7 separate regions of the Homo sapiens genome follow, and all the other regions are linked to region 6. The links come from fine-mapping of genetic effects on gene expression. A gene starts in region 6. Each other region holds a variant in brackets. All regions are shown on one strand. Distances are from middle to middle.

Region 1 (4,101 bases), 32 kb after region 6:
TCCCTGGACATGTTAGAAATGCAAATTCTCAGACCGAACCAGGACTGAATCGGAAGATCTGGGGTAGGGTCCCTCCAGGACTGAAAACGGAAGGTCTGGGGTGGGGTACCCCAGGACTGAATCGGAAGGTCTGGGGTGGGGTCCCCCCAGGACTGAATCGGAAGGTCTGGACGAGGGTCCCCCCAGGACTGAATCAGAAGATCTGGGGTAGGGTCTCCCCAGGACTGAATCGGAAGGTCTGGGGTGGGGTCCCCCCAGGACTGAATTGGAAGGTCTGGACTAGGGCCCCCCCAGGACCGAATCGGAAGGTCTGGACTAGGGTCCCCCCAGGACTGAATTGGAAGGTCTGGGGTAGCGTCCCTCCAGCTGATCCTGTTACACAGGTTAGAGAACCATGGCATTAGGGGTAGCAATTTGACAATTCTTTTTTTTTTTTTTTGAGACAGAGTCTCACTCTTGTTGCCCAGGCTGGAGTGCAGTGGCGCACTCTCGGCTCACTGCAACCTCCGTCTCCCAGGTTCAAGCAACTCTCCTGCCTCAGCCTCCTGAGTAGCTGGGATTACAGGCACCCATCATCATGCCTGGCTAATTTTTTGTATTTTTAGAGATGGGGTTTCACTATGTTGGCCAGGCTGGGACAATTCTTAAACTGTCATTCTTTACTCACTTACTTGCAGGAATTCTTATGTAAAGAACTTTCCCTAATCAACAAGGTTTCCCTGAATTGCAATTTGTAGAGAAAAGACAGGATAATTACTGATCTTCCTTCAAGTGTCCATTCCCAGTGTTAGGAGTTAGTGCCCTAGGTACCTCCAAGAGTGACCAATTACATGTGTTTGTTTGGTTTTGGCTTTGAAACCACCACTATGAATTCATGGTTTTCATGTATTAGAGACCACTTTCTAGGTGCTTGATGTGTCTACTGCTACTGGGGCAGAGGTAGAAAATGTGTCTACGGTAAAAGAACAACAAATGAGTTCACGCTTATATTTCTATTTCAAATTTAGTATACGGTTTTACACCTTTTTCTCAGAAAAATCTTGTTTTATTTTTTGAGATAGAGTTTTGTTCCTGTTGCCCAGGCTGGAGTGCAGTGGCACAATCTCGGCTCACTGCAATCTCTGCCTCCTGTTTCAAGCGATTCTCCTGCTTCAGCCTCCCCAATAGCTGGGATTACAGGCACCTGCCACCATGCCCAGCTAATTTTTCAATTTTAGTAGAGATGGCGTTTCACCATGTTGGCCAGGCTGGTCTCAAACTCCTGACCTCAGGTCATCTGCCCACCTCGGCCTCCCAAAGTGCTGGGACTTGGGAGGATTTTCCCTTGCCAGAAAAATCTTAGTTTTAGCATTAACATAATTAGTTATTTGCTTTAACTCCCACCCCACATAATTTCAAAGGATTAATACCTATAAGACGAGTAACGGAGATGATTGATTGAAATTTAGGATTCAGTGGCTCTATTTGTCTTTAGACTATGGCTCACTAAATCTGCACACTTGAAGTGCTGTGTTCTAGCGATCCTCTGATGACACATGAAGTAATAGGCTGCGTGACTGTCACCAGCCTGATGTGCAGTTGGGCTGCAGAACCCCGTGATGCTGCCTAGCCCAGCCAGCCCCAGGTCACTCCTCAGACTCAAACTCGATTCTGACACCACCAGCACCCGGGACGCTGCCTAGGGGCTTTCTCTGGTGGCAGCAGCATGTCCTGGAGCAGGCCAGGGGTGCCCGGAATTGACCATCCTGAACCTGTGCAGCGTGGGCTGGTGAAGGAACGCACCAGCTCCCACAGTGAACACGGGCCCAGCTGTCCACATGAGACCCGGCTCCCGGACGCCCCATGCTGCCGCCTCTTTCCTGTCTCACCTCCCACTTCCCTTCAGCTGCTGCTCAGGGCCACCTTCCAAATTTTTGTCTCAGGGTTGGCGCCTGTAGAATGCAATCCAAGGAATTTAGATTCATTCATTTCAGATACCATTCTTTCAATTTTAGGGACTATCTTAAAAACTTAGTTTGGTAATATGTAAAACACTTACAATTTCAAAGTCCAGATATTACTTCAGAGTCTATTTCGGTCTCACTTCCACCACTGACCC[CTG/G]TCCTCCACAGCAACCACTTTAGATTTTTATCTTTGTACTGTTTTAAGAAAAAGCAAATATATATTTGCATTATATTATATGTACTCTGCCCCTTATCAATAGGCGTTCCTCATTCCTCCTTCTGGTACGGAGTTCCCCACTGCACGAATTAATGTTCCTAATCCCTTACTGATGGACATTTTGATTGTTTCCAGTTTTACAAATGCCACAGTGAAGAACTTTGTGGCAAACACATTCAGGCTGTGAAAAGAACTCTGTGGATAAAGTCCTTTCATTTCTTTGCCAGAGTTTTTTTTGAGGCAGATTCTAGAATTGCTGAGTCTAAGGGCAAATGCCATGTCGTTTTGTTAGATGCTGCCAAATCCTCTTCCATGAGGCTGCAACGTTCTGCATTCCACAGTGACGTATGAGAGTCCTTGTACCCCACAGCTTCATAAACAAAGCATGACAGCAAACCTGCACGTTTACCCATCACACAGTTGAGAAATTTTATCTACTTTCACCTTTTTTTTTGGTTAGCATTTTTATTCCCAGCTTTTTTGTGGTATAATGCGCAGAAGGTAATGAACACATTCTACCTGCAAGCTTCTTCCTGTGCCTTTGGAATCTGCTCCTGCCAGTCTGCAGGGAACCACGGATCTGCTTTCCGTCACGTAGGAGGCATTCTCGACACCCTCTGTACACAGCATGCGCTTTATTTGGCTTCTCTTACGCAGCGTAGTGACTTTCAGATTTATTCAAGCTGCTGCGTGCGCCAACAGTCCACTCCTTCCTAGTGCTGAGGCCCCCATCACATGAGCACAACTGTTTCTTGTGTGTGATGTGTTGTCCTCTGGCTGTGCACTGCCAAAAAAGACATCATTAAAAAAAATTTAAATATAATGTAAGACCTGCCTTGTCTTAGGAAACGTTTTTCTGGCAGTGGCTCACACCTATAATCCCAATACTCTGGGAGGCTGAGGCAGGAGGACTGCTTGAGCCCAGGAGTTTGGGACCAGCCTGGGCAAGAGGGTGAAACCCTGTCTCTAAAAATTAGCCAGGCATGGTGGCTCACACCTGTAGTCTCAGCTCTTAGGGAGGCTGAGGTGGGAGGACTGCTGGAGCCCAGGAGGTGGAGGCTGCAGTGAGCCGAGATCACACCACTGCACTCCAGCCTGGGCAGCATGGCAAGACTCTGTCTCGACCAAGAAAAAAACAAAAAATTAACAGAAGGAAAAACAAAACGGCTTTCTTATCAAAAATACACTTTAAGAACAAATTTATAATATTAAGTTGCTGCAAAAGTAATTGTGCCTTTTACCATTGAAAGCAATGGCAAATACTGCAATTACTTTTGCTCCAACCTAATATTATTTTCTAATGACAAACTTGGAAATAACTGTCATTGCTCTCTAAAAAGAACAGCCTAAAAATAAAGCAGCAGCCCATTTACTTCTATGCCAGTTCTTTTAGCATTTGGTTATTTAAACCGGCAGTCCCTAACCTTTTTGGCACCAGGGACTGGTTTCACGGAAGACACTTTTTCCACTGACAAGTGTGGGGATGGTTTGGAGATGAAACGGTTCCATCTCAGATCATCAGTATTAGATTCTCATAAGCGGGGCATAACCTAGATCCTTCTCATGCGCAGTTCACAACAGGATTCCACTCCTATGAGAATCTAATGCCACCACTGATCTGACAGGAGGCGGAGCTCACACAGCAATGATATGACAGGGGCGGAGCTCACAATAATGATATGACAGGGGGCGGAGCTCACACAGTAATGATATGACAGGGGGCGGAGCTCACACAGTAATGACAGGGGGCGGAGCTCACACAGTAATGATGACAGCGGGCGGAGCTCACACAGTAATGCTCTGGCAGGGGGCGGAGCTCACACAGTAATGCTCTGGCAGGGGGCGGAGCTCACACAGTAATGATGACAGGGGGCGGAGCTCACACAGTAATGATGACAGGGGGCAGAGCTCACAGTAATGCTCTGGCAGGGGGCGGAGCTC
Region 2 (4,157 bases), 210 kb before region 6:
GCCCGTGGCAAGAACTGCTTGGTGACCGCTGATGTTTCTTCAAGCCCCAGGGGCTCTTTAGTCAGCAGGTGGCAAATGCAGCCAGGCTTGTGTCTTTCTTTTCAGGGCGGCAGATTCCCTTCCAGCCCAGAGCAGGTGCAGAAATGCCATCCAGGAACTAAGGCTGGGAATCTGGGACTTCAGGAATCTGCTTGCTGCTTTATTTACTATGGCTGAGCTGGTACCTCCAGTGCAAGACAAAGTCCTCTTTACTCTTCTCTCCCTTTTTCTCAAGGAGAAGGAGCCTCTTTCTGTGGCCATCACAGCTGGAGATGTGCTGGGTCACACTTAAAGCCAGTAAGGCTCTGAGTCTCCCCCAAGGCCTGTGGTGAGTGCTGCCTGCCTGGCTACTGCTGATATTTATTTAAGGCCCAAGGGCTATTTAGTCGGGAGGTGAAGAAGGCTGCCAGGACAGACCCTTTCCTTCCAGGCAGCAGGTTTCCTTTTGGCCCAGTATGTGCCTAGAAATGTTGTCCAGTAGCTGGGGCCTAGAACAGGGGAGCTTCAGGACTCTGCTTGGTGAGTTATTTTACTGTGGCTGAGCTGGTACCCAAGTGGCAAGACAAAGTCCTCTTTATCCTCCTCCCTCCTCTCATCCAGTAGAAGGAGGGAGTCTCTCCCAGTGCTGTGAGCTGCGCAGCCTGGGGGTGGGTGAGGGTTGACACAAGCACTCCCTGGGCTGCCCCCGCTGGTGTCTCACTAGGTCATGTGCACCCCAAGTCCACTGGCTCCAGGGTATTTCCAGGAATTGCAGTCCCTGTGGCCTAGGCTGCCTTTCAAGTTTATTTAGGATCCCAGAGCTCTTTAGCCAGCAGTGCGTGGCTTGCTAGAATTCAGGTTCACACCACTGAGATTGAGGATTTGTCTTTGCTAGGGCTGGTTTAAATGCTGTGTCTGTGAGTGCTGCCCTGTGTTGTTTTCCACTGTGACTGGGCAGCACCGAGTGGCAATGCAAAGTCCTATCATCACTGTGCTCTGCCTCTCCCAGCTCACGGATTCTCTCTCCCTGCCGTGCAAAGTCCCATCATCACTGTGCTCTACCTCCCCCAGCACACGGATTCTCTCTCCCTGCCATGCAAAGTCCCATCATCACTGTGCTCTACCTCCCCCAGCACACGGATTCTCTCTCCCTGCCATGCAAAGTCCCATCATCACTGTGCTCTGCCTCCCCCAGCACACGGATTCTCTCTCCGTGCCGTGCAAAGTCCCATCATCACTGTGCTCTACCTCCCCCAGCTCACGGATTCTCTCTCCATGCCGTGGGACTGCTGCCATGGGGTAGGAGATGGGTGATGTTAGCATTTCAAGATCGTCTTTCCTGTCCTCTTCAGTGCTTTTCTTGAGATGATATGAAAACCAGATACTGCAGTTGTTCATCTGATTTTCGGTTCTTATGCAGGTTTTTTCTCAACTTGAGAGTTTTCGGTTTAGTGGTCCTGGGCAGGGGTGGGGTGGGGGTGGGTGGGGCCGGGGGTTGGGTGGGGTGGGGGGTGATTGCTGGAGGGCCCTACTTGAGCATCTTGCTCCACTTTCCTCTCACCACCTTTTCAACATTGTTGGGAAAGCCCTAGCCAATGTGATAAGATTAGAAAAAGAAAGAAAAGCTATAATGATCAGAAACAGTTAGAATTGGACCAGGTGCCGTGGCTCACGCCTGTAATCCCAGCACTTTGGGAGGCCAAGGCGGGGGGATCATTGAAGTCAGGAGTTTGAGACTAGCCCGGCCAACACGGTGAAACCCCGTCTCTACTAAAATTACAAAAATTAGCCAGGCTTGGTGGTGGGCACCTGTAATCCCAGCTACTCAGGAGGCTGAGGCAGCAGAATCACTGGAAC[A/T]CAGGAGGCAGAGGTTGCAGTGAGCCAAGATTGTGCCACTGCACTCCAGCCTGGGTGACAAAGGGAGACTCTGTCTCAATAATTAATTAATTAATTAATTAAACGCAGCCATGAAAAAGAATGGGTTCATGTCCTTTGCAGGGACATGGGTGAAGCTGGAACCCATCATTCTCAGCAAACTAACACAGGAGCAGAAAACCAAACACTGCGTGTTCTCACTCCTAAGTGGGAGTTGAACAATATGGACACAAGGAGGGGAACATCACACACTGGGGCCTGTCGGGGGTTGGGGGCAAGGGGAAGGAGAGCATTAGGACAAATACCTCATGCATGCAGGGCTTAAAACCTCGATGATGGGTTGGTAGGTGCAGCAAACCACCATGGCACGTGTCTACCTATGTAACACACCTGCACGCTCTGCACATGTGTCCCAGAACTTAAAGTAAAATTTTTTTAAAAAAGAAATAAGTACAGTTATCTTTATTTGCAAAGTTTATGATTGCTCCTGTATAATAGCCCAAGAAATTTACAAAAACTTCTAGAATGAATAAATGAATTTGTCAGGGTCACGGGATACAAGATTGCTATATTAAAATGATTTGTATTCTTGGTTGGGAGCCGTGGCTCATGCCTGTAATCCCAGAACTTTGGGAGACAGAGGCAGGAAGAATGCCTGAGCTCACAAGTTTAAGACCAGCCTGAACAATGTGGCAAAGCCCTGTCTCTACAAAAAAATAAATAAATAAAATCATTTGTATTATGTAACGGCATCAAATAATTATTAAAAATTAATTTACAATAGTGCTAAAGAACATGGAATGCTTAGGAAAAAACTTAACAAAAGATGTTAAAATTTTTAATGCTGAAAACTACAAAATGTTGCTGAGAGAAATTAAAGATTTCAATTAATATACCACATTTCTGAATTGGCAAAAATATATCTCATGAATTGGAAGATTCAGTATGATTGTCTTAATCTGTTTGGGCTGCTACAGCAATATAGGTGGCTTAAACAGCAAACATTTATTTCTCATGTTCTGGAGGCTGGTAAGTGTAAGATTGAGGCAGCAGATTTGGTATCTGGTGAGGACTGGCTTTCCTGTTCATAGACAGCTGTCTTCTTATTGTGTCCTCACATGGCAGAGGGAGGGAGGCAGCTCTCTAAGGTCTCTGTTGTAAGGACACGAATCCCATTTATGTGGGATCTATCCTCATGGCCTTATCATCTCCCAAAGTCCCCTTGTCCAAATACCACCACACTGGGTATCAGGTTTCAACATGTAAATCTGGGAGGCGGGCAAAGACATTCAATCAATAGCAATTGTTAAGATGTCAAATTTTCCCAAATTGATCTATAGAGTTAACACAACTCCATACAAAATTCAAGGCTTTTTTACATAAATTGACAACGTGATACTAAGAGTTATATGGAAATATGGAGGGCCTAGAGAAGCTTTTATTTTTTGAGATGGAGTCTTGCTTTGTCGCCCAGGCTGGAGTGCAGTGGCGTGATCCCAGCTCACTGCAACCTGTGCCTCCTGGGTTCAAGGGATTCTCCCACCTCAGCCTCCCCAGTAGCTGGGATAACAGGTGCCTGCCACCACGCCTGGCTAATTTTTGTATTGTTAGTAGAAACAGGGTTTTGCCATGTTGGCCAGGCTGTTCTTGAACTCCTGACATCAGGTGATCCACCCACCTCAGCCTCCCAAAGTGCTGGGATTAAAGGCATGAGCCACTGCGCTTGGTTACAATTTTTTATTTTATTTTATTTTGTATTGTTTGTTTATTTATTTATTTTTGAGATGGAGTCTTTCTCTGTTGCCCAGGCTGGAGTGCAGTGACATAATCTCAGCTCACAGGAACCTCCGCCTCCCAGGTTCAAATGATTCTCCTGCCTCAGCCTCCCAAGTAGCTGGAATTACGGGCGTCTGACACCACACTCAGGTAATTTTTGTATGTTTAGTAGAGACGGGGTTTTGCCACATTGGCTAGGCTGGCCTTGAACTCCTGGCCTCAAGTGATCTGCCCGCCTGAACCTCCCAAAGTGCTGAGATTACAGGTGTGAGCCACCGTGCCCGGCCAGAAACAGTTGTGTTTTTTTTTTTTTTTTTTTTCTTTTTTAAAGAAGAACAATTCTTTCTCAGCCTTTCGGCAAAGATTAAGTGTAGTCTATATTATTAGTTTAGTATTTGATATGTCCTCTATCTGAGGACAATATATTAAATGGGCGTCTAGAGCAAGAAAATAGAATAGGAGCTTGTTCTGTCCATTCCACTCATTAA
Region 3 (4,105 bases), 310 kb before region 6:
ATGCACATATTCCTAGAAATACACGATATACCAGAAATGACTCATAAAGCAGTAGAACATCTGAATAGACTCTGAACTACTAAGGTTGAATCAGTAAGACCTGGCCTTTTCTTCACCAGATGGTTTCACTGGTGAATTCTTCTTCTTTTTTTTTTTTTTTTTTTTTTGAGACAGTCTCGCTCTGTCGCCCAGGCTGGAGTGCAGTGGCACGATCTCGGCTCACTGCAACCTCCCTCTGCCGGGTTCAAGCGATTCTCCTGCCTCACCCTCCCCAGTAGCTGGGATTACAGGCGCGCACCACCATACCCAGCTAATTTTTGTATTTTTAGTAGAGATGGGGTTTCACCGTGTTAGCCAGGCTGGTCTCGAACTCCTGACCTCGTGACCCACCCACCTCGGAATCCCAAAGTGCTGGGATTACAGGCGTGAGCCACTGTGCCCGTCCGCCATTATGAATATTGATGCAAAATGTTTAATACTAGCAAACCAAATTTAGCAGCTTATCAAAATAATTATATACCATGACTAAGTGAGGTTTAGTCTGTAAATGCAAGGATGGTTCAACATAGGAAAATCAACCAAGGTGATGCACCACATTAATAGAATGAAGGGGAAAACCCCAAATGATCATCTCAATTGATACAGAAAAAGTATTTGACAAAGTCCAACACACTTTCATGATAAAGCAGTCAATAAACTAGGAATGGAAGGGAATTCCTTCAAAATAATAAAGGTTATATCTGAAAAACCCACAGCTAATATCATATACAATGGTGAATTTCTTAAAACTTTACCCCAAACATCAGAAAGAAGATAAGGACTTCTATTCAACACAGTAGTAGCCGTTGTAGTCACAGCAACTCGGCCAAAAATAAATCGCATCTGAACTGGAAAGGAAGAAGTAAAATCACCTCTGTTCACAGAAGACACGCTCTTACATGTAGCAAATTCTAAAGAATCCACAATAAAATGGTTACATCTCACTCCAGAATTCAGAGACATGGCAAGATACAAAATCAACACACGAAAATCAGCTGCATTGTTATCCACTAGCAATGAACATTCCGAGAGGATATTAAGAAAACAATTCTGGCTGGGTGCAGTGGCTCAACGCCTGTAATCCCAGCACTTTGGGAGGCCAAGGTGGGTGGATCACCTGAGGTCAAGAGTTCGAGACCAGCCTGGCCAACATGGTGAAACCCCGTCTCTACTAAAAATACAAAAATCAGTCGGGTGTGGTGGCACGCAGCTGTAATCCCAGCTACTTGGGAGGCTGAGGCAGGAGAATCTTTTGAACCTGGGAGGCGGAGGTTGCAGTGAGATTGTGCCACTGCACTGCACTGCACTCCAGGCTGGGTGACAGAGTGAGATTCTGTCTCAAAAAAAAAAAAAAAAAAAAAGCATCAAAAAGAATTAAAAATACACAGGAATAAATTTAACGAAGGAGGCACAAGACTTAAACTTATGTATTGAAAACTATAAAACATTGCCAAAAGAATTAAAGAAGACATAAATAAATGGAAGGATATTCCATGTTGGGGATTGGGAGGCGTAGTTGTTAAGATGACAATACTGCCCAGCCTATCTACAGAGTTAATGCAAAATCCCTTTCAAAATCCCAGGGGTGTTTTTTGCAGAAATAGAAAAACCTAATTTGAAATTCAGGCCCCGCATGGTGGCTCAGGCCTGTAATCCCAGCACTTTGGAAGGCTGAAGCAGGCGGATCACCTGAGGCCAGGAGTTCGAGAACAGCCTGGCTAACATAGCGAAACCCCGTCTGTACCAAAAAATACAAAAATTATCCGGGTTGGGGGTTACGTGCGCCTGTAGTCCCAGCTACTCGGGAGACTGAGGTGGGAAAATCACCTAAGTCCGCGGAAGTCGAGGCTGCAGTGAGCCTTGATTGAGCCAATGCACTCCAGCCTGGGCGACAGAAAGAGACTCTGTCTCAAATAAATTTTTTTAAAAAAGTAAGTAAATAAATAAATAATTAAATTAAATTAATGTGGGATCTCTCCTATAGGCTCTGGGAAGCCTGTGGCTTGAGATGTGGCCCCGCAGAGGAATGCGCATGCGCTGAGTCACCCAACGATTTGGGTTGGCGGAAAAGTAATGGCGGTTTTTGCCCTTCCTTTTTTTTTTTTTCCTTGAGACGGCGTCTCGCTCTGTCGCCCAGACTGCAGTGCAGTGGTGCCATCTCGGCTCACTGCAAGCTCCGCCTCCCGGGTTCACGCCGTTCTCCTGCCTCAGCCTCCCAAGTAGCTGGGACTACAGGCGCC[C/T]GCCACCACGCCCGGCTAATTTTTGTATTTTTGGAACCTTTTGTATTTTAGAACCTTGAAAACGTTATGTTAAGTGAAATAAGTCAGACATAAAAGGACAAATACTGTATGATTCCAGTTATATGAGGTACCCAGATTAGGCAGATTCACAGGGATGGAAAGTAAAATAGAGGTTGCCAGGGGCTGGGGTACAGAGGAAACGGGAAGTTACTGCTTGATGGGCACAGAGTTTCTGTTTAGGATGAAGAGAAAGCTCTGGAAATAGTGGTGAGTTACACAACATTGTGAATGTACTTAGTGCCACTGAGTTGTATACTTAAAAGTGGCTAAAATAGTGTATTTTATGTTATGTGTGTTTTACCACAATAAAACATTCTAAAAAATAGGAATAAAGTACTACAACACGGGTGTACTTTGAACCCACTATGCTGAGTGAAAGAGGCCCTTCACCAAAGACCACATAGGTATGATTTGATTTCTGTGAAATGCCCGGAACAGGCACATCTACGCAGACAGAAAGTAGATGAATGATTGCCATGGGCTGGATGAGGAGGAAGCGGGGAGTGACAGCTAATGGGTATGGGGTTTCTTTTTGCAGTGACAGAATGTTCTAAAATTAGGTAGGGGTGCTGGTTATACAGCTCTGTGCATGTCTTAAAAACCACCGAATTGTACACTTTTAAAGAGTGAATTCACTTTTTAAGAGTGATTTTTTTAATTTAAAAAATGTTTTAAACTATTTTCTGCATCCAACCAACCATTACTTTGTTTAATTTTTTATTTATTTATTTTTTTTGAGAAGAAGTCTCGCTCTGTCTCCCAGGCTGGTGTGCAGTGGCACGATCTCGGCTCACTGCAAGCTCCGCCTCCAGGTTCAAGCGATTCTCCTGCCTCAGCCTCCCGAGTAGCTGGGACTACAGGCACGTGCCACCACGCCCGGCTAATTTTTGTATTTTTAGTAGAGACGGGTTTTCACTATGTTGGCCAGGCTGGTCTTGAACTCCTGACCTTGTGATCTGCCCGCCTTGGCCTCCCAAAGTGCTGGGATTACAGGCGTGAGCCACTGCACCCAGCCTTTGTTTAAATATTTTTAATTTAATGTCTTTAACAATTTTTTTTCGAGACAAGATCTCACTCTGTTGCCCAGGCTGGAGTGCAGTAGTGCAATCACCATTCACGGCAGCCTTCATCACCCAGGCTGAAGCGATCCTCCTGCCTCAGCATCCCAAGTAGCTGGGATTAGAGGTGCATGCCACCGTGTCTGGCTAATTTTTGTATTTTTTTGTAGAGACAGGGTTTCGCCATGTTGCCAGGCTGGTCTCCAATTCCTGGGCTCAAGCGATCCGCCCATCTTGGCCTTCCAAAGTGCTGAAATTACAGGCATGAGGCACCGTGCCCCGCCTTAAAGGATGATTTTTATTGTATGTAAATTATATATCAATAAAGTCATGAAAAATCAATCAGGGTAATTCACCATATTGACAGAATAAAGGAGAAAATGCATGATCATGCCATAGATGCAGAAATAGCATCTTGTGCAGATTTACACCGTTTCATTATAAAACTAGGGATAATAGGAAGCTTTCTCAAACTAATAAAATGGCACCTAATAAAACTTACAGCTAGCATCCAAAATTTATGATAAAAAACTGAATTGTTCATCTATAAAATCAAGAACAAGGAAACAATGGCCATTTTTACTACATTTTTTGTTTGTTTGTTTGTTTTGTTTTGTTTGAGACTGGTGTCTCCCTCTGTCCCCCAGGCTGGAGTGCAGTGGCACAATCACTGTAACTTCAACCTCCTGGGCTCAAGCAGTCCTCCCA
Region 4 (4,157 bases), 97 kb before region 6:
GGAACAAGTCTCACTTTCCAGCCTGATGGGCTAATCTCACTGCCTTCTTTCTCTGTTCAAATTTTGTCTGGATCACTTTCTTCAGGACAGTCGCTGGGCTAAGCATAGTGTCCAGTATCAAAATGAGAAGCCTGGCAGTTGGTCCTGGATCATAGCTGGGAGCTCACCCAGGAAAGAGCTGGGATGGGAAGGGGTTCTCCACCTTTTCCCCACCCACCTGCAGAGTCTTTAATCCACCCATCATTTTTAGGCTTCCGGAGTAATTATTCTATTTATTTTATTTTATTATTTCAAGACGGAGTTTCGCTCTTGTTGCCCAGGCTGGAGTGCAGTGGTGTGATCTCAGCTCACTGCAACCTCCGCCTCCCAGGTTCAAGTGATTCTCCTCCCTCAGCCTCCCAGGTAGCTGGGACTACAGGTGCACACCACCAACATTTCTACTAAGTTTGTATTTTTAGTAGAGATGGGGTTTCTCCATGTTTGTCAGGCTGGTCTTGAACTCCCGACCTCAGGTGATCTGCCCGCCTCGGCCTCCCAAAGTGCTGGGATTACAGGCGTGAGCCACAGCGCCCGGCCCCATTGTCAGCTCTGCTTCCGCCATTAGACCATCAACATTAAAAGGGTTAATTGATCACAAGTGTCCAAAAAAGTGCCGACATCCTGGACAGAGCAAGCTCATGTTTATGGACTTCTGACTGTAGAAGGAGGGTCAGAGCCGCCGATCAGAACACACCAGCTCTGCTTCCAGGTTCAGGAAATGATCCTGAACACAGAAGGCACTTTGGGTACAAAGCCTCTGATCCGGGCATTACCTGTAACAGGGACGCCGTGAATAACCCAGTGTCCAAGTTAGTTCAGTTATGGTGGCAGCCAATGCAGTATCACGTGGCCTTCAGAAATGTGTGAATGGAGTTTTATAATAATTGGGGAGACTTTTAGGTTTAAAGCTAGGTCATGGCCCGGCGCAGTGGCTCACGCCTGTAATCCCAGCACTTTGGGAGGCTGAGGCGGGCGGATCACAAGGTCAGGAGTTTGGGACCAGCCTGACCAACATGGTGAAACCCCGTCTCTACTGAAAATACAAAAATTAGCCAGGCATGGGGGCACGAGCCTATAATCCCAGCTACTCGGGAGGCTGAGGCAGGAGAATGGCGTGAACCCAGGAGGCGGAGGTTGCAGTGAGCCAAGATCGCACCACTGCACTCCAGCCTGGGTGACAGAGCGAGACTCTGTCTCAAAATAAATAAATAAATAATAAAAATGAATAAATAAATAAATAAATAAAGTTAGGTGGTAAAGAGGAGATCAAACTATATCTAGGATATGATAGATTTAAACTATGGATATGAGCTATGTATGAGAAACAAGCCAGAAATCTCTCAACGCGTTAATAGGGTTGTTCCTGGGTGGTGAAACATTGATGATGTTTTTCTTCTCTCTACTTTTAAATATTTTCATATCTCTGTGGACAGTGTGCATTACTTTATAATGAAAAAAGAAACCCAGTAAACTTCATTTTAAAAGATGGCTTTCGGCCCGGGTTGGGCTTTCTGTCAGAACCCCGCGTTGGAGAGCTTTGTGGGCCCACCCTCATTCAGTCCCCATGGTGGCCGCATGTACGTGTCCCCTGTGGCAGACGTTCCGCCTGGGAGCAGCGGTCTAACTGGGAGCCAGGAGTGTGCAAAGACAACCGAACAGACGTGGACGCTCGGCAGCAAGACAGAGAGGGCGCTGGAAACCCGGGCTCCGGGACACACCCTGCC[G/A]CTCACCGGCTGCGCCAACAAGGACCTCCCTTCTCTCTGGGCCCACACCTCCTCCACGGTAGAATGAGGGCTTCGGATGACATGGTCACCAGGGTCTCTTCCAGTTTTAAAATTATGTTAAGATCCTCTTATTCTTTCAAGCTTTACAAAGGGAAGCCCCACAAAAGGACACAGGTGGCAAATCCGGGGACCTGGATGCTGGGTCACCGACTTCATGTTCTTGCTGACTTCCTGGCCTCGGTTTTCTTCTCCTTAAGGCTGGGTGAATGGAATGAGTTTAGATCCCTGGACCTCCAGGCCCTCCTGTGCCCCGGGGTGGCCCTGCTTCACAGGGATGCCCGTAAGAAGACGTTGCATGCGTAAAAATCATGCCCTGCTCCACCACAGAGGTGAGATGAGACAGGAAATGAGCTAATTGGCGTGAGAATGCTTGGCACTTTTAGGGAAAGGAGAAACCGAATCCCAAGAGAATGACAGTGGCCTTTGTGTGACCCTAGTACCAGGGCCCCTGCTTTCGCCATGGCCTCAGATAGAGGCCACATACAGCAGGTGCTGGGCCCCCAGCCCACCCACCTCCCTGCTTTCACCATGGCCTCGGATAGAGACCACATACAGCAGGTGCCGGGGCCTCCAGCCCGCCCGCCTCCCTGCTGAACCATGGAATAAGGAGCTGCAGAGGAGGAAAGATTTTGGAGTCGTGCTGACCTGGGTCTGAATCCCAGCTCGGAGGGCCTGCTGCCACATCTGTACGTGGGCATCCTCTTTTACGTGAGTGTCTCGGGTCGGGTCCTCCCAGAAGCAAATGCTGAGTTGGTGGAAGGAATGTGAAGGCTATAGGGGAGTGGCACCTGCTTAAGGAGAAGGAGGCCGGGCTGGGCAGGAGGATGTGGCACCTGGTAAGGAGAAGGAGGCCGGGCCGGGCAGGAGGATGTGGCACCTGTGTAAGGAGAACGAGGCCGGGCCGGGCAGGAGGATGTGGCACCTGGTAAGAAGAAGGAGGCTGGGCCGGGCAGGAGGATGTGGCACCTGGTAAGGAGAAGGAGGCCGGGCTGGGCAGGAGGATGTGGCACCTTGTAAGGAGAAGGAGGCCGGGCCGGGCAGGAGGAAGTGGCATCTGTGTAAGGAGAAGGAGGCCAGGCCGGGCAGGAGGATGTGGCACCTGCGTAAGGAGAAGGAGGCCGGGCTGGGCAGGAGGATGTGGCACCTGGTAAGGAGAAGGAGGCCGGGCTGGGCAGGAGGATGTGGTACCTGGTAAGGAGAAGGAGGCCGGGCAGGAGGATGTGGCACCTGCATAAGGAGAAGGAGGCCGGGCCGGGCAGGAGGATGTGGCACCTGGTAAGGAGAAGGAGGCCGGGCAGGAGGATGTGGCACCCGGTAAGGAGAAGGAGGCCGGGCCGGGCAGAAGGATGTGGCACCTGGTAAGGAGAAGGAGGCCGGGCCGGGCAGGAGGATGTGGCATCTGTGTAAGGAGAAGGAGGCCGGGCCGGGCAGGAGGATGTGGCACCTGCGTAAGGAGAAGGAGGCCGGGCTGGGCAGGAGGATGTGGCACCTGGTAAGGAGAAGGAGGCCGGGCTGGGCAGGAGGATGTGGCACCTGGTAAGGAGAAGGAGGCCGGGCAGGAGGATGTGGCACCTGCGTAAGGAGAAGGAGGCCGGGCCGGGCAGGAGGATGTGGCACCTGGTAAGGAGAAGGGCGGAGGCCAGGCTGAGCAGGAGGATGTGGCACCTGGTAAGGAGAAGGGCGGAGGCCAGGCTGGGCAGGAGGATGTGGCACCTCGTAAGGAGAAGGGCGGAGGCCAGGCTGGGCAGGAGGATGTGGCACCTCGTAAGGAGAAGGGCGGAGGCCAGGCTGGGCAGGAGGATGTGGCACCTGGTAAGGAGAACGGCGGAGGCCAGGCTGAGCAGGAGGATGTGGCACCTTGTAAGGAGAAGGGCGGAGGCCAGGCTGAGCAGGAGGATGTGGCACCTGGTAAGGAGAAGGGCGGAGGCCAGGCTGGGCGGAGGATGTGGCACCTGGTAAGGAGAAGGAGGCCGGGCCGGGCAGGAGGATGTGGCATCTGCGTAAGGAGAAGGGCGGAGGCCGGGCTGAGCAGGAGGATGTGGCACCTGTGTAAGGAAAAGGAGGCCGGGCTGGGCAGGAGGATGTGGCACCTGTGTAAGGAGAAGGAGGCCGGGCTGGGCAGGAGGATGTGGCACCTGCGTAAGGAGAAGGAGGCCGGGCTGGGCAGGAGGATGTGGCACCTGCGTAAGGAGAAGGAGGCCGGGCTGGGCAGGAGGATGTGGCACCTGCGTAAGGAGAAGGAGGCCGGGCTGGGCAGGAGGATGTGGCACCTGCGTAAGGAGAAGGAGGCCGGGCTGGGCAGGAGGATGTGGCACCTGCGTAAGGAGAAGGAGG
Region 5 (4,157 bases), 120 kb after region 6:
CTTCCATAACCACTATGATAATTAATTTTATGTGTGAACTTGTATCAGAGGTGTTTAAACCAGAGCGACTCCATCTAGAATAAGCGCTGAGTAAAACAAGGCTGAGACCTACTGGGCTGCATTCCCAGGAGGTTAAGCATTCTAAGTCACATCATGAGATAGGAGGTCAGCACAGATACAGGTCACAAAGACCTTGCTGATAAAACAGATTGTGGTAAAGAAGCCGACAAAACCAAGATGGCTACAAATATGACCTCTGGTCATCCTCACTGCTCATTGTATGCTAATTACAATGCATTAGCATGCTAAAAGACACTCCCACAGGCACCATGACAGTTTACAAATGCCATGGCAATGTCAGGAAGTTACCCTATATGGTCTAAAAAGGAGAGAAACCCTCAGTTCTGGGAATTGCCCACCCCTTTCCCAGAAAACTCGTGAATAATCCACCCCTTGTTTAGCATATAATCAAGAAATAATCATAAAAATAGCCAACCAGCAGGCCTTGGGGCCACTCTGTCTATGGGATAGCCATTCTTTATGCCTTTACTTTCTTAGTAAGGTTGCTTTTACTTTACTCTATGGATTCACCTTGAATTCTTTCTTGCATGAGATCCAAGAGCCCTTTCTTGGGGTCTGGATCGGGACCCCTTTCCAGTAACACTTGGGCTAGGAAATGCCCAGATTGCTGCTAAGAATTTATTTCTGGGCGTGTCTGTGAGGGTGTTTCTGGAAAAGATTTGCATTTGAATCATTTGATTGAGTAAAGAAAATCACCCTTACCAATGTAGACAGGCATCACCCAATCCATGGAGGGCCCAAAGGAGCAAAAGGGTGGAGGAAGGATGAATTCTGCCTCTCCTCTTGAGCTGGGATGCCCATCTTCCCCTGCCCTTCAACATCAGAGCTCCTGGTTCTTGGGCCTTTAGGCCTGGAATGAATTACAGCACTGGTTTTCCTGGTTCTCCATCGTGTCCTTTTGAGTTTTGGTCACAGCATCACCAGAAGATGAGGACATTCACCTCTGATCTCCTCCTTTCTAGTTTTTTTTTTTGTTTTGTTTTGTTTTGTTTTTTTTGATACAGAGTCTCACTCTGTTACCCAGGCTGGAGTGCAGTGGTGGGATCTCAGCTTGCTGCAACTTCCGCCTCCTGGGTTCAAGTGATTCTCCTGCCTCGGCCTCCCAAGTAGCTGGGATTACAGGCATGGACCACTACACCCAGCTAATTTTGCATTTTTAGTAGAGACAGGGTTTCACCATGTTGGCCAGGCTGGTCTCAAACTCCTGACCTCAGGTGATCCACCCGCCTCGGCCTCCCAAAGTGTTGGAATTACAGGCGTGAGCCACCGTGCTCAGGCTGATCTCCTCCTTTCTATGCACCTGTATTAGTAACTGGTGGTTCTGCCTGAGGGACAGATGGATCCAAGGGTTCCGTGATAGATCCATGGTTCCTCTGTTTTGCTTTATTCTCAAAAAGGCTCTTACCTGAAATGTGGTCCCTGGAAGTTCTGGGTGGACAAGGTCCTTCATGGTAGTGACTGAAGGAAGAAAAAGAGAGTATTCCCTGAAAGATTCAGCAAACATCTGAGGGAAGATTGACCACTCTGGATGCAGGGTCCTGCCTGAGGGATTGCTCTAAGGGTCCAGGCTGGGTAATGCACCTGCCCCCTGCAGTGGTGGTAGAGGATAAAGCCAGCCAGTCTCATCCAACCATATGGACTGGGCAGATTACTATAAAATAGAGAATGTAAATCTTCCCAAAGGAAGGGAATGTGGAATCAACAAGAGGCAAGGTCGCTCCCTCTCTCTCTCCCTCTTCCTCTCCCTCTCCCTCTTCCTCTCCCTCTCCCCAAGGTCTCCCTCTCCCTCTCCCTCTCCCTCTCCCTCTCTTTCCACGGTCTCCCTCTAATGCCAAGCCGAAGCTGGACTGTACTGCTGCCATCTCGGCTCACTGCAACCTCCCTGCCTGATTCTCCCGCCTCAGCTTGCCGAGTGACTGCGATTGCAGGCGCGCGCCGCCACGCCTGAGTGGTTTTCGTATTTTTTTGGTGGAGA[C/T]GGGGTTTCGCTGTGTTAGCCGGGCTGGACTCCAGCTCCTAACCACGAGTGATCTGCCAGCCTCGGCCTCCCGAGGTGCCGGGATTGCAGATGGAGTCTCGCTCAGTCAGTGCTCAATGTTGCCCAGGCTGAAGTGCAGTGGCGTGATCTCGGCTCGCTACAACCTCCACCTCCCAGCCGCCTGCCTTGGCCTCCTAAAGTGCCGAGACTGCAGCCTCTGCCCGGCCGCCACCCCGTCTGGGAAGTGAGGAGCGTCTCTGCCTGGATGCCCATTGTCTGGGATGTGAGGAGCCCCTCTGCCCGGCTGCCCAGTCTGGGAAGTGAGGAGCGCCTCTTCCCGGCCGCCCATCGTCTGAGATGTGGGGAGCGCCTCTGCCCCGCCGCCCCATCTGGGATGTGAGGAGCGCCTCTGCCCGGCCACGACCCCGTCTGGGAGGTGAGGAGCGTCTCTGCCCAGCCGCCCCATCTGAGAAGTGAGGAGCCCCTCCGCCCGGCAGCCGCCCCGTCTGGGAAGTGAGGAGCGTCTCCGCCCGGCAGCCGCCCCGTCCGGGAGGGAGGTGGGGGGCGCCTCCGCCCGGCTGCCCTGTCTGGGAAGTGAGGAGCCCCTCTGCCAGGCCGCCACCCCGTCTGGGAGGTGTACCTAACAGCTCACTGAGAACAGGCCATGATGATGATGGCGGTTTTGTGGAATAGAAAAGGGGGAAATGTGGTGAAAAGATAGAGAAATCAGACTGTTGCTGTGTCTGTGTAGAAAGAGGTAGACATAGGAGACTCCATTTTGTTCTGTACTAAGAAAGATTCTTCTGCCTTGGGATGCTGTTGATCTATGACCTTGCCCCCAACCCTGTGCTCTCTGAAACATGTGCTGTGTCCACTCAGGGTTAAATGGATTAAGGTCGGTGCAAGATGTGCTTTGTTAAACAGATGCTTGAAGGCAGCATGCTCGTTAAGAGTCATCACCACTCCCTAATCTCAAGTACCCAGGGACACAAACACTGCGGAAGGCCGCAGGGTCCTCTGTCTAGGAAAACCAGAGACCTTTGTTCACTTGTTTATCTGCTGACCTTCCCTCCATTATTGTCCTATGACCCTGCCAAATCCCCCTCTGCGAGAAACACCCAAGAATGATCAATAAAAAACAAACAAACAAACAAACAAACAAAAAAGATTATGATCCCACTATTTGCAAAAAAATAAAATAAAATAAAATAAAAATACAAAATTAAAAAAAAAAAAAGAGGCAAGGTCACTTTTGTCCCCAAGTTATAACTCTGGTCTTCCTCTGCTTCTCCTCTTTTCTCAGGACTCTTTCTTATCTCATCCCCAAGTTCAGCTTGTTCAGCCCTGCAAGGGCTGATGGGTGGGGGTCAGGTGTGGGGCAGGATCACTGCCCTCCTCCATTATTTTCACCCAGGCAAAAATGGGTGAAATGAGCCTCAAGGGCCGTGTCAGAGAGAGGTGTGAGGGGTGGAGACAGAGGGAGAGTCAGGAATGGACCCTCACTGCACTAGAAGCATGTGGAGGAGAGAGGACCAGCCTCCTTCTGAGGGAAGAATAATAGGAGCACTGTATGTGTGTGCCTGAGTTCCAGGTCTGGTTGGTACTGCATGAGAGAGTCATCTCGTTTTCCCACAAAAATAGCTTCAAAATCATCCAGACCCTTCTTTCTTCCCTCTTGATATTGGTCTCAGACCTGTCACTAAAATCCTAAGGCTGGCTCTGATCCCACCATGAGAAGCTTTCAGAAAAGGGTGCTTTTCTCCCGGAGCTCAAGGGCTTCAGCTCTTGGCTAATCAGTACCACACCCCCAAACACACACACACACACACACACACACACACACACACACACACACACAGAGAGTAATTAGTTATGGAATTTGGTGGAAGAATCAATCAGACCATTTGGATCATGGAATAAACTATTCTATGGACGCATGGAATGTTCCATGGAATAATGTCCTAGTTATTTTGTGCTATAGGGAGACAGACATTTATATCCAACAAATGTCCTCTAGATTGAGTGTTGAACAATCTTGTATGGATAAGACTGAGAACAACACACGGAGGAAATTCTTCTGGTTTCAAGACAAACTCCACGA
Region 6 (4,157 bases):
TCCAGCCTACACAGCTGGAAGCCCAAAGGTGGCGCTCTTGGAGTCTGACCTCCCCTGGCACAGGGTTTGAGATGGTCTTTACCCAGCTCCACTGGCCCAAAAGTAGCCCATAGACCCAAAAGGGGCCTAGCACCTCTCCCCAGGGCATCAGGATGGGGCCCCAGGTCCCCAACTGGTTGTCCTGTGGACCTCAGGGAATGACGACGCAGGAGTCAAGAGCCTCGGTTGCAGCTCCCGCTGTGCCGCCCACGACTGGCTCCGGGGTCAGATGATCTGCTGGTTCAAATCCTGACTCAGCCTCCTACTAGCCAGGCCAGTCTCTAGACCCCTCCCAGCCTCCATGTCCTCACCTGAGAAAACAGGGTCACAATACCTGCCTTGCCAACGTGATGAGGACCAGCGGAGAAGGTGAAAGGGCTTATATTCCAAAGCCCACAAGGTAAGCATCCCTCCCTATGGAGTCCTCTCCCAGGCCACTGGAAAGCACGCATAGTTGATCTGACTATAGTGAGGAGTGCGGGCTGCACCCCCAGGCAGTATAGGCGAGTCCCGGGCACCCACTCTCATCCCTGGTCCAGTGCGGCCCAGCTGCACACACAAATCTCACTTTTGCAGGAACTGTTCGTCTGCCTTCATAATACAGTTTCTTCTCCCCACTTCAAGCCTGAGATCATTTCTTTGAGCCTTCTTGGTCCAGCCCACACAGCTGGAAGCCCAGAGTGGTGCCCTTGGAGCCCGACTTCCCCTGGCACATTTTCTGGCTTATCCAGGAGCCCCGGGGTGTCCTTTCTGCTGTGAAACCTCCTCATGCTCCCCAAGCCCACAGCCTCTCGGGTCCAAGGGGGTCTTCTCGAATACAGCAAATCCCAGCCCAGCCCCTCAGTAGCTCTGGAACACTGCGGCTCTCCTGGTACAATCTTCAAATCTGGTGGAGAGGAAAGCGTGTGGACTTGGGACCCTGAGTTGGAGAATCTGCTCTCTGCCCTGTGACCCTGGCCAAGTCTCTCAGCTCCAAGCCTGCATTTCCGCACCTGTAAGGTGGAGCTAACGGGACACGTGCAGCGCAGACCAGGCCACGGTGAGCACAGGCAGGAGGCCACGGGGTGCAGTGCTCAGGCCTGTGAGGAGTCAGATTCTGGCTCCGAGGAGTTGTTACTGGATGCCCAGAAGCACAGTGGCCTCACCCTTAAAGCAGTGGAGGTGGGGGGTGGTAAAAACAGGGCCGATCTTGCAGGGCCGTTGTGAGGATTAAAAATACAATGTATGATAATGATGCATCAAAGTAGGTTCCTCAGTCCTATCAAATGTGCCACTCTGGTGGGGGACGCTGATGATGGGGGAGGCTGTGAGTGGTGGGGATGGGAACTCCAGACTCTCCACTGCAGCTTTTTTTTTTTTGAAACATAGTTTCACTTTTGTTGCCCAGGCCAGAGCGCAAGGGTGCGATCTCAGCTCACTGCAAACTCCACCTCCCAGGTTCAAGCAATTCTCCTGCCTCAGCCTCCCGAGTAGCTGGGATTACAGGCACCTGCTACCACCCCCGGCTAATTTTGTATTTTTAGTAGAGACGGGGTTTCTCCATGTTGGTCAGGCTGGTCTCGAACTCCTGACCTCAGGTGATCCACCCACCTCAGCCTCCCAAAATGCTGGGATTACAGGTGTGAGCCACCACGCCCGGCCTCTCCACTCGAGGTTTAGAGGGAGCATAGAACTAAAAAAAAAATAAATCCTTTTCTATTTTTTAATGTATGTGATGAGTTTGGCACAACTCCTATTAGCGACAGGTCAGGGTTCATTCCCGTCTTTCACAAAAGCCCTGCCTGTCAGCATCCACCCTTCCCAAGCAGTTTGTGGCAGTTGGACTTTTCACACGAAATCTGTATTTTGAAGGAAATCCATGCTAGGTAATAAACTGGGAGGAGTCAGAATCTTGTTAAGCCACATTCTTCAGCTTTCTGCACAATGATCACCAGCTGGCACCTCCCTGCACCCCCGCTCCGTGCCCCACTTACTGTCCCACGTTCATAAAGACAAACTCTCAGCCATCCCTTACGATGGCAGCGTCATGGTTGATTAGCGTGTACTGCAGCGCCAGGCACGCTTACACTCACACACATCGTCATGGTTGATTAGTGTGTACTGCAGCGCCATGCACGCTTACACTCACACTGTCATTTGCACACTCTTTATCAACAATAATAGCACTTCACAAGTAGCACTGTGGTTCATTATAATCAACCCGAGAGAGCCTGCCCTTGCCCATGAAGGGTGGCTCATACTGAAATTCACTCCCAGAGCCCTACTAGGGGAGAGGCCCACCAGGCCCTTCTAGGCCTCCTTACCTGCAGAGCTCCCAGAGACCCCAACCTCCCAGCAGAAGAAGAAAAGGGGCAGAGCCAGACCCCAGAGACAGCCCATCCTAGCCGGCCACCGCTGCTCCACAGAACTGCTGGCTGTCTCTCGCGGGTACCTTTTCCTGCTTCCTCAAACCAGGGAGGAGGGGCAGCCTCCTGCCCAGGTGTGTGACCAGGTGATCACAAATGTGCAGGCTGAGGGCTGGCAGGTTGAGGCTGTCAGCAAGCTGACCCCCCTGCCTTCCTTGCCCGGTAAACACTCCACTGAAATTTGATTTGAAGATATGGAATCACTAGCTTCTTTTTTTTTTTTTGAGATGGAGTCTTGCTCTGTCACCCAGGCTGGAGTGTACAGTAATGAGATCTCAGCTCAATGAAACCTCTTCCTCCCGGGATCCAACAATTCTCCTGCCTCAGCCTCTGGAGTAGCTGGGATTATAGGCGCGCACCACCACGTCGGGCTAATTTTTGTATTTTTAGTAGAGATGGGGTTTCACCATGTTGGCCAGGCTAGTCTCAAACTCCTGACCTCAGGTGATCTACCTACCTCAGCCTCCCAAAGTGCTGGGAGTACAGGCATGAGCCACTGCACCCAGCCAAGTGCTTTTATTTTCTTAAGCCAATTAATTAGAGCTCTTTTATATATTTTCAGTAGCAAAACACTGTGTACACAACAACACATAAATACACAGATGTATTAGGTATGCTGAAAGAAGTTCATCTTATAGATTCATAAAGAGCTTTTTTCTTACACCTTCAAATTCTTTTTTACTTTTTTTTTTTTTTTTTTTGAGACAGAGTCTCACTCTGTTGCCCAGGCTGGAGTGCAATGGCTTGATCTCGACTCACTGCAAACTCTGCCTCCTGGCTTCAAGTGATTCTCCTGCCTCAGCTTCCTGAGTAGCTGGGATTATAGGCACCTGCCACCACATCTGGCTAATTTTTTTTGTATTTTTAGTAGAGACGGGGTTTCAACATGTTGGCCAAGATGGTTTTGAACTCCTGACCTCAAGAGATCTTTGCGGCTCAGCCTCCCAAATGCTAGGATTACAGACGTGAGCCACCGTGCCCAGCCACACCTTCGAATTCTTGATAACCTGTTTTACTACTCTAAGCGGTTGTCAGCTAAATAGCCTTGAATTTGCATTTTAAGGAAACTGAGGTGAAAATCGAATAGCAAAATTTACATCATAACGTATGGAGAGAAAAAGTCTGGTGTGCTGGAGGGAAATTAAAACAGATTTAATTGCCAATTAAACATAAAATTATAGAAATTATAAAGGCCTTTTAAATATATACACACACACAAAGATCCTATAGCTTTTACTTCAGAAATTTAGCCATGAAAGCTGGGCGCGGTGACTCACGCCTGTAATCCCAGCACCTTGGGAGGCCGAGGCGGGCAGATCACCTGAGGTCAGGAGTTGGAGACCAGCCTGACGAACATGGAGAAACCCCATCTCTACTAAAAATACAAAAAATTAGCCAGGCATGGTGGTGCATGCCTGTAATCCCAGCTACTCGGGAGGCTGAGGCAAGAGAATCACTTGAACCAGGGAAGAGGAGACTGTGGTGACCCAAGATCACGCCATTGCACTCCAGCCTGGGCAACAAGAGTGAAACTCTGCCTCAAAAAAAAAAAAAGAAAAAAAAAAAAGAGAAAGAAAAGAAAAAAAGAAATTTAGCCATGAAATAAATACAAATTCACCAGTTTACAAACAGAAAAACTATCTGATCCAAACAGTGTTTTTTATCTTAATAGAAAAATAACAGCAAATTTAAAGCAGGCAGAGAAGAAACTAG
Region 7 (4,157 bases), 110 kb after region 6:
ATTGTCTTCCAGAAATTTACTCTTAACACTGACCAAGAAGCTGTGTGAACATACAAGTTATCTGCCCTCTCTGGGCCTCCGTCAACATGATCTACAGGGTCCTTTTGGCCCCATGGTCTGGGGTTCTGCGTTGGGCGTGACATTGTCTTCCAGAAATTTACTCTGCTCTGGGCTGTGCTGCTGGGAAGAAGGAGGGAATGGGAGGGAATAGGAGGAGGAAGACTCCCCAGAAGAGGCTGAGGGGGGTCCATAGGGGACAAAACCCAGCACTTGGGGTGGGGATCTTGGACACCATTGATCTGTAGGCTGAGCCCCTTCCATCCTCCACTCAGCCCCAGCTCTTTGCTTATCAAATGAGACAAGGACTCCCCCCAGGAGGAGTCAGGTAGGGAGAGGAGGGCAGGGCCACAGCAAGGACTGTATTCTCTTAGACCCCATCTAGTAGCTGCGACCCACTGTGAGGCTTAGCCCAAGGGAAGATGGAGAAGAGACTAAGCACCAATGCAGCTCCTCTCAGCCACCCCAGCCCTCCTCCAGCCCCGCCCCCGCAGGGATAGGGGCTTCCTCATTCCAGCAGCAAGTGAGTCCACCCCAGCCTGTTGCAGATGAGGAAGTGAGGAATCCCTGGAAAGGAAGCCTGGCTGAGAGCTTCCCTGGGTTTGCTGAATTTTGGACCATTTTCCTCGGTATTTGGGAAATTTACAAGCCTGGGCAGATGACTGTTAGCCCTGGGGGCCATAAGAGTCTTATGCAGAAAGTTCCTGGGCCATATTTTAGCCAAACTCAGCTCTCACCTTGAATGAGCGTAGGAGGCTAGTTCATTAATTTAATGCACGTACGGAATTCCTTCTACATGCCAGACATTGCTCCAGGCACTTGGAATACATCACTCAGTAAAAGAGATCCCGGCCTTCACGGAACAACTCTCCTAGTGAAGAGAGACAGCAAACTGTGAACCCCGAATATCTCAGACAGGTCTCAGTTCATTTAGAGAGTTTATTTTGCGAAGTTTGAGGACTCGCGTCCATGACACAGCCTCAGAAGGTCCTGGTGACATGTGCCGAGGTGGTCAGAGCATAGTTTGGTTTTACACGTTTGAGGGAGACATGAGACATCAATCAACATATGTAAGACGAACATTGGTTCAGTCTGGTAAGGTGGGACAACTCAAGCAGGGAGGGGGCTTCCAGGTCACAGGTGGGTGAGAGACAAATGGTTGCATTCTTTTGAGTTTCTGATAAGCCTCTCCAAAGGAGGCAATTAGATATGCATCTATCTCAGTAAGCAGAGGGGTGACTTTGAATAGAACGGGAGACAGGTTTGCCCTAAGCCGTTCCCAGCTTGACTTTTCTCTTTAGCTTCATGATTTTGGGGGGCCCAAGACAGTTTCCTTTCACATTTCCCCCTTTTCTTTTTAAAAATCTTTTGGAGAAAGCATTTTAGAAGAAAATGAGTCTCTGGTCTGAGGTTTCATCGGGTCTCTCATGGCTAGGATGGTTTATTCCTAGATAGGTAGGTCCC[A/T]ATAGCTACCCTAGATAGGTAGCTCATTATTAGCAGGTTGAGAATCCTCATGTCCTGTGAAGAGAAAATAGGGGGAGGAAGGGAGAAAAACAACAAACAAAATAACGATCCTAGAAAATCGATATAGGCCACATTACTCTGAAGTCCATACGTCAGTAGGCAGGTATGAAAGTAGCTTATATATGTAAATAGGCTGCTGTTATTTTCTTCTGAAGTTTAAGTTGTCTAGCTTCAGTTCACAGGGCTTCAAAAAGCACAGCTTAGCTTTCAGTAACTCCAAATTAGGAAAAATGGGAAAAAAGAAAGGGAAAAAATGGAAAACATTATTTTGAAGACTTGTAGCCAAGAAAAATTAGAATTTGGTCCAAACTGCAGAAAATAATAAAAATGGAAAAACATTAGGCAAGACTAGAATCTAACAACAGGTGTACTATAGTTCTTAAAACATAGTTTTTCTCTCTCCAGTTTCTCATTTTTACTAAAGACAAATCATGGTAGGACTGATTTCCTTTATTATTCTTGGCCTGATTATTTGTATACAGTGCAGCTAGAATAATTATTTTTTTACACAGGCTTTTAAATTGGCTTTGATGAAACTTTGTTCCATAGAAGGAATCTCAGAAAAGACTTGTTTAAAGCTGAGCCCTGCCATGGATTTGTACCATCAAATACCTATGAGTTGCATGAATTCCTCTCCTTTTGAGGGTCCAAGGTAAAACTTGGGGCTCCTGGGCCTGTCGGAAAGTGACATTCTTTACTTACCACAGGGCAGGAACCCTGTTCAGCGACTGTGTAGACAGAGCATGTGGCTTTTACTGGCTCCATAAAACAAGTTTAATTCCTTAAAGGAAAGCACATCATTCTAGTCAAAGTGCTGGTAAAATAACCAGTTTCTCCAATTGTGTCCTGTTACAAATAAAGACAGATTATTATTGCACTTATGCAAATAACTATATTGTGATAAGGATACTCACAAACAGTTGCCAAATTCTGGAGAAATCAGGTAGAGAGAAATGAATATGCTCCAAATTTTGTTCATAGGAGTACAATAACTTGTTAAAAGCTGTCAATAGCTCAAAAGAAAAGTTTCCTTGACTCTGAAAAAACAAAACAAAAGATCAACAACGTTTTAAGCAAAAAGTCAAAAAGATTACTTCAGTCCATGCAGTTAATTCCTGTTCTGCTTGATATTCATGAACATTTCAGCTCTCCATGAGTCCCGAAAGTTTTTCCTCTATTCTAATGTCACAATCTCCAAAGTTAGCAGAAACCTGCATTCAAGAGCACCTTTTAGAGTTTTATAGCTGATTATAAAACCACCTTCTTTTTTTTTTTTTTGAGACAGAGTCTCACTCTGTTGCACAGGCTGGAGTGCAGTGGTATGATCTCAGTGCACTGCAACCTCTGCCACCTGGGTTCAAATGATTCTCCTGCCTCAGCCTACCAAGTAGCTGGGATTACAGGTATGTGCCACCATACCACACCATTATGTATATTGCTTGTGTACAATGCCCACTGTCTGGCTGATGGGATCACTCATACCACAAACCTCAGCATCACGCAATATACCCATATAGCAAGCCTGCACATATACCACCTGAATCTAAAATAAAAGTTAAAGATATTTTTTAAAAAATTATATAAATAAATAAATAAAATTGCTAAAAGAGTGGTAGATGCCTGTAATCCCAGCTACTCAGGAGGCTGAGGCAAGAGAATCACTTGAACCCAGCAAGTAGTGGTGAGCCAAGATCACGCCATTGCGCTCCAGCCTGGGCAACAGAGTAAGACGCCACCTCAAAAAAAAAGAAAAAAGAAAAGAAAAAGAAAAGAGTAGATGTTAAATGTTCTCACAACAACAAAAAATGATAAGTACGTAAGATTCTTAACCACAGTTGATGTACCTCACAGGAAGAGCTTCTCTTTCAAGATGTGTAACTGCCCCATGGGTTCTTCCTGCCCACTGCACAAAAAAAATCAGTTCATGGAGACCATGGCATTGCGGTAAAGAAAGAGGTTAATTGATATGATGCCAGCCACATCATGTGGGAGGCAGAGTTATTACTCAAATCAAACTCATCTAAGTCTTGGAGGTTAGGGATTTTTCAAAGGTAATTTGGTAGGTAGTGGGCTAGGGTATGGGGAGTGCTGATTGGGTCAGAGATGAAATCATAGGGCGTCAAAGCTGTCCTCTTTCTCTGAGTTGCTTCTGGGTGGGGAAACAGAAGCCACTAGCTGGTCCCGGTGGAGCCATCGGTCATCAGACATGCAAAAAATCCTGAGAAGATATCTCAGAAGGCCAATCCTAGGTTCTACAAAAGTAACATTATCTGCAGGGGTAACTGAGGAAGTTGCATATCTTGTGGCTTCTGGAATAATGCCTCACAGTTGTTTATGTCTACACCTTAGCAGAATTTAGGTTCATCTCCTCCTCCTAGCCTGGTGGTCTCTCAGTGTTACAAGGCTGGTTGAGTTTGAGGGAAGGGTTACTATCATTTAAACTATAAACTAAATGACTCCCACATGTAGCTTGGCTTAAACCCAGGAATAATTAAAAGCAGCTTGAAGGCTAAAGGCAAGAGGGAGGTTGGCCAGGTCAGATCTCTTTCACTGCCATTTTTTTCTCACTGTGATAA

The links. PIP is the estimated chance that this variant, and not a neighbour inherited with it, causes the effect.
Region 1: its variant is fine-mapped to the expression of MUC20 in whole blood (INTERVAL, PIP above 0.99).
Region 2: its variant is fine-mapped to the expression of MUC20 in whole blood (TOPMed, PIP above 0.99).
Region 3: its variant is fine-mapped to the expression of MUC20 in whole blood (TOPMed, PIP above 0.99).
Region 4: its variant is fine-mapped to the expression of MUC20 in whole blood (TOPMed, PIP above 0.99).
Region 5: its variant is fine-mapped to the expression of MUC20 in whole blood (TOPMed, PIP above 0.99).
Region 7: its variant is fine-mapped to the expression of MUC20 in blood mononuclear cells (TOPMed, PIP above 0.99).

The regions. Positions count from the first base shown.
Region 1 is chr3:195,687,376-195,691,476 of GRCh38, reverse strand. It overlaps MIR570HG (MIR570 host gene), which reads right to left and starts at 2,979. Exons shown (of 5, transcript NR_122105.1): 1 at 2,680-2,979; 2 at 2,039-2,138. It also overlaps the pseudogene SDHAP2. The variant CTG/G (reference allele first, on the strand shown) is at 2,099.
Region 2 is chr3:195,928,626-195,932,782 of GRCh38, reverse strand. All of the region lies in intron 3 of LOC124906253 (keratinocyte proline-rich protein-like), which reads left to right. It also overlaps the pseudogene RNU2-11P. Among named protein-coding and RNA genes, the nearest start is that of TNK2, 22 kb to the right of the region's middle. RefSeq lists an enhancer at 3,964-4,157. The variant A/T (reference allele first, on the strand shown) is at 1,876.
Region 3 is chr3:196,033,716-196,037,820 of GRCh38, reverse strand. It overlaps LOC124909478 (a long non-coding RNA gene), which reads left to right and starts at 2,368. Exons shown (of 5, transcript XR_007096234.1): 1 at 2,368-2,546. The variant C/T (reference allele first, on the strand shown) is at 2,280.
Region 4 is chr3:195,816,041-195,820,197 of GRCh38, reverse strand. LOC124905352 (vegetative cell wall protein gp1-like) reads right to left here. Exons shown (of 3, transcript XM_047449429.1): 1 at 2,657-4,157; 2 at 2,469-2,568; 3 at 1,422-2,021. The coding sequence ends at 1,900. Among named protein-coding and RNA genes, the nearest start is that of MUC4, 6.2 kb to the right of the region's middle. RefSeq lists an enhancer at 2,963-3,768. The variant G/A (reference allele first, on the strand shown) is at 1,764.
Region 5 is chr3:195,598,192-195,602,348 of GRCh38, reverse strand. No RefSeq gene overlaps it. Among named protein-coding and RNA genes, the nearest start is that of APOD, 16 kb to the right of the region's middle. RefSeq lists an enhancer at 1,449-1,618. The variant C/T (reference allele first, on the strand shown) is at 2,057.
Region 6 is chr3:195,719,269-195,723,425 of GRCh38, reverse strand. It overlaps MUC20 (mucin 20, cell surface associated), which reads right to left and starts at 2,448. Exons shown (of 4, transcript NM_001282506.2): 1 at 2,343-2,448. The coding sequence starts at 2,418.
Region 7 is chr3:195,608,828-195,612,984 of GRCh38, reverse strand. No RefSeq gene overlaps it. Among named protein-coding and RNA genes, the nearest start is that of APOD, 27 kb to the right of the region's middle. The variant A/T (reference allele first, on the strand shown) is at 1,522.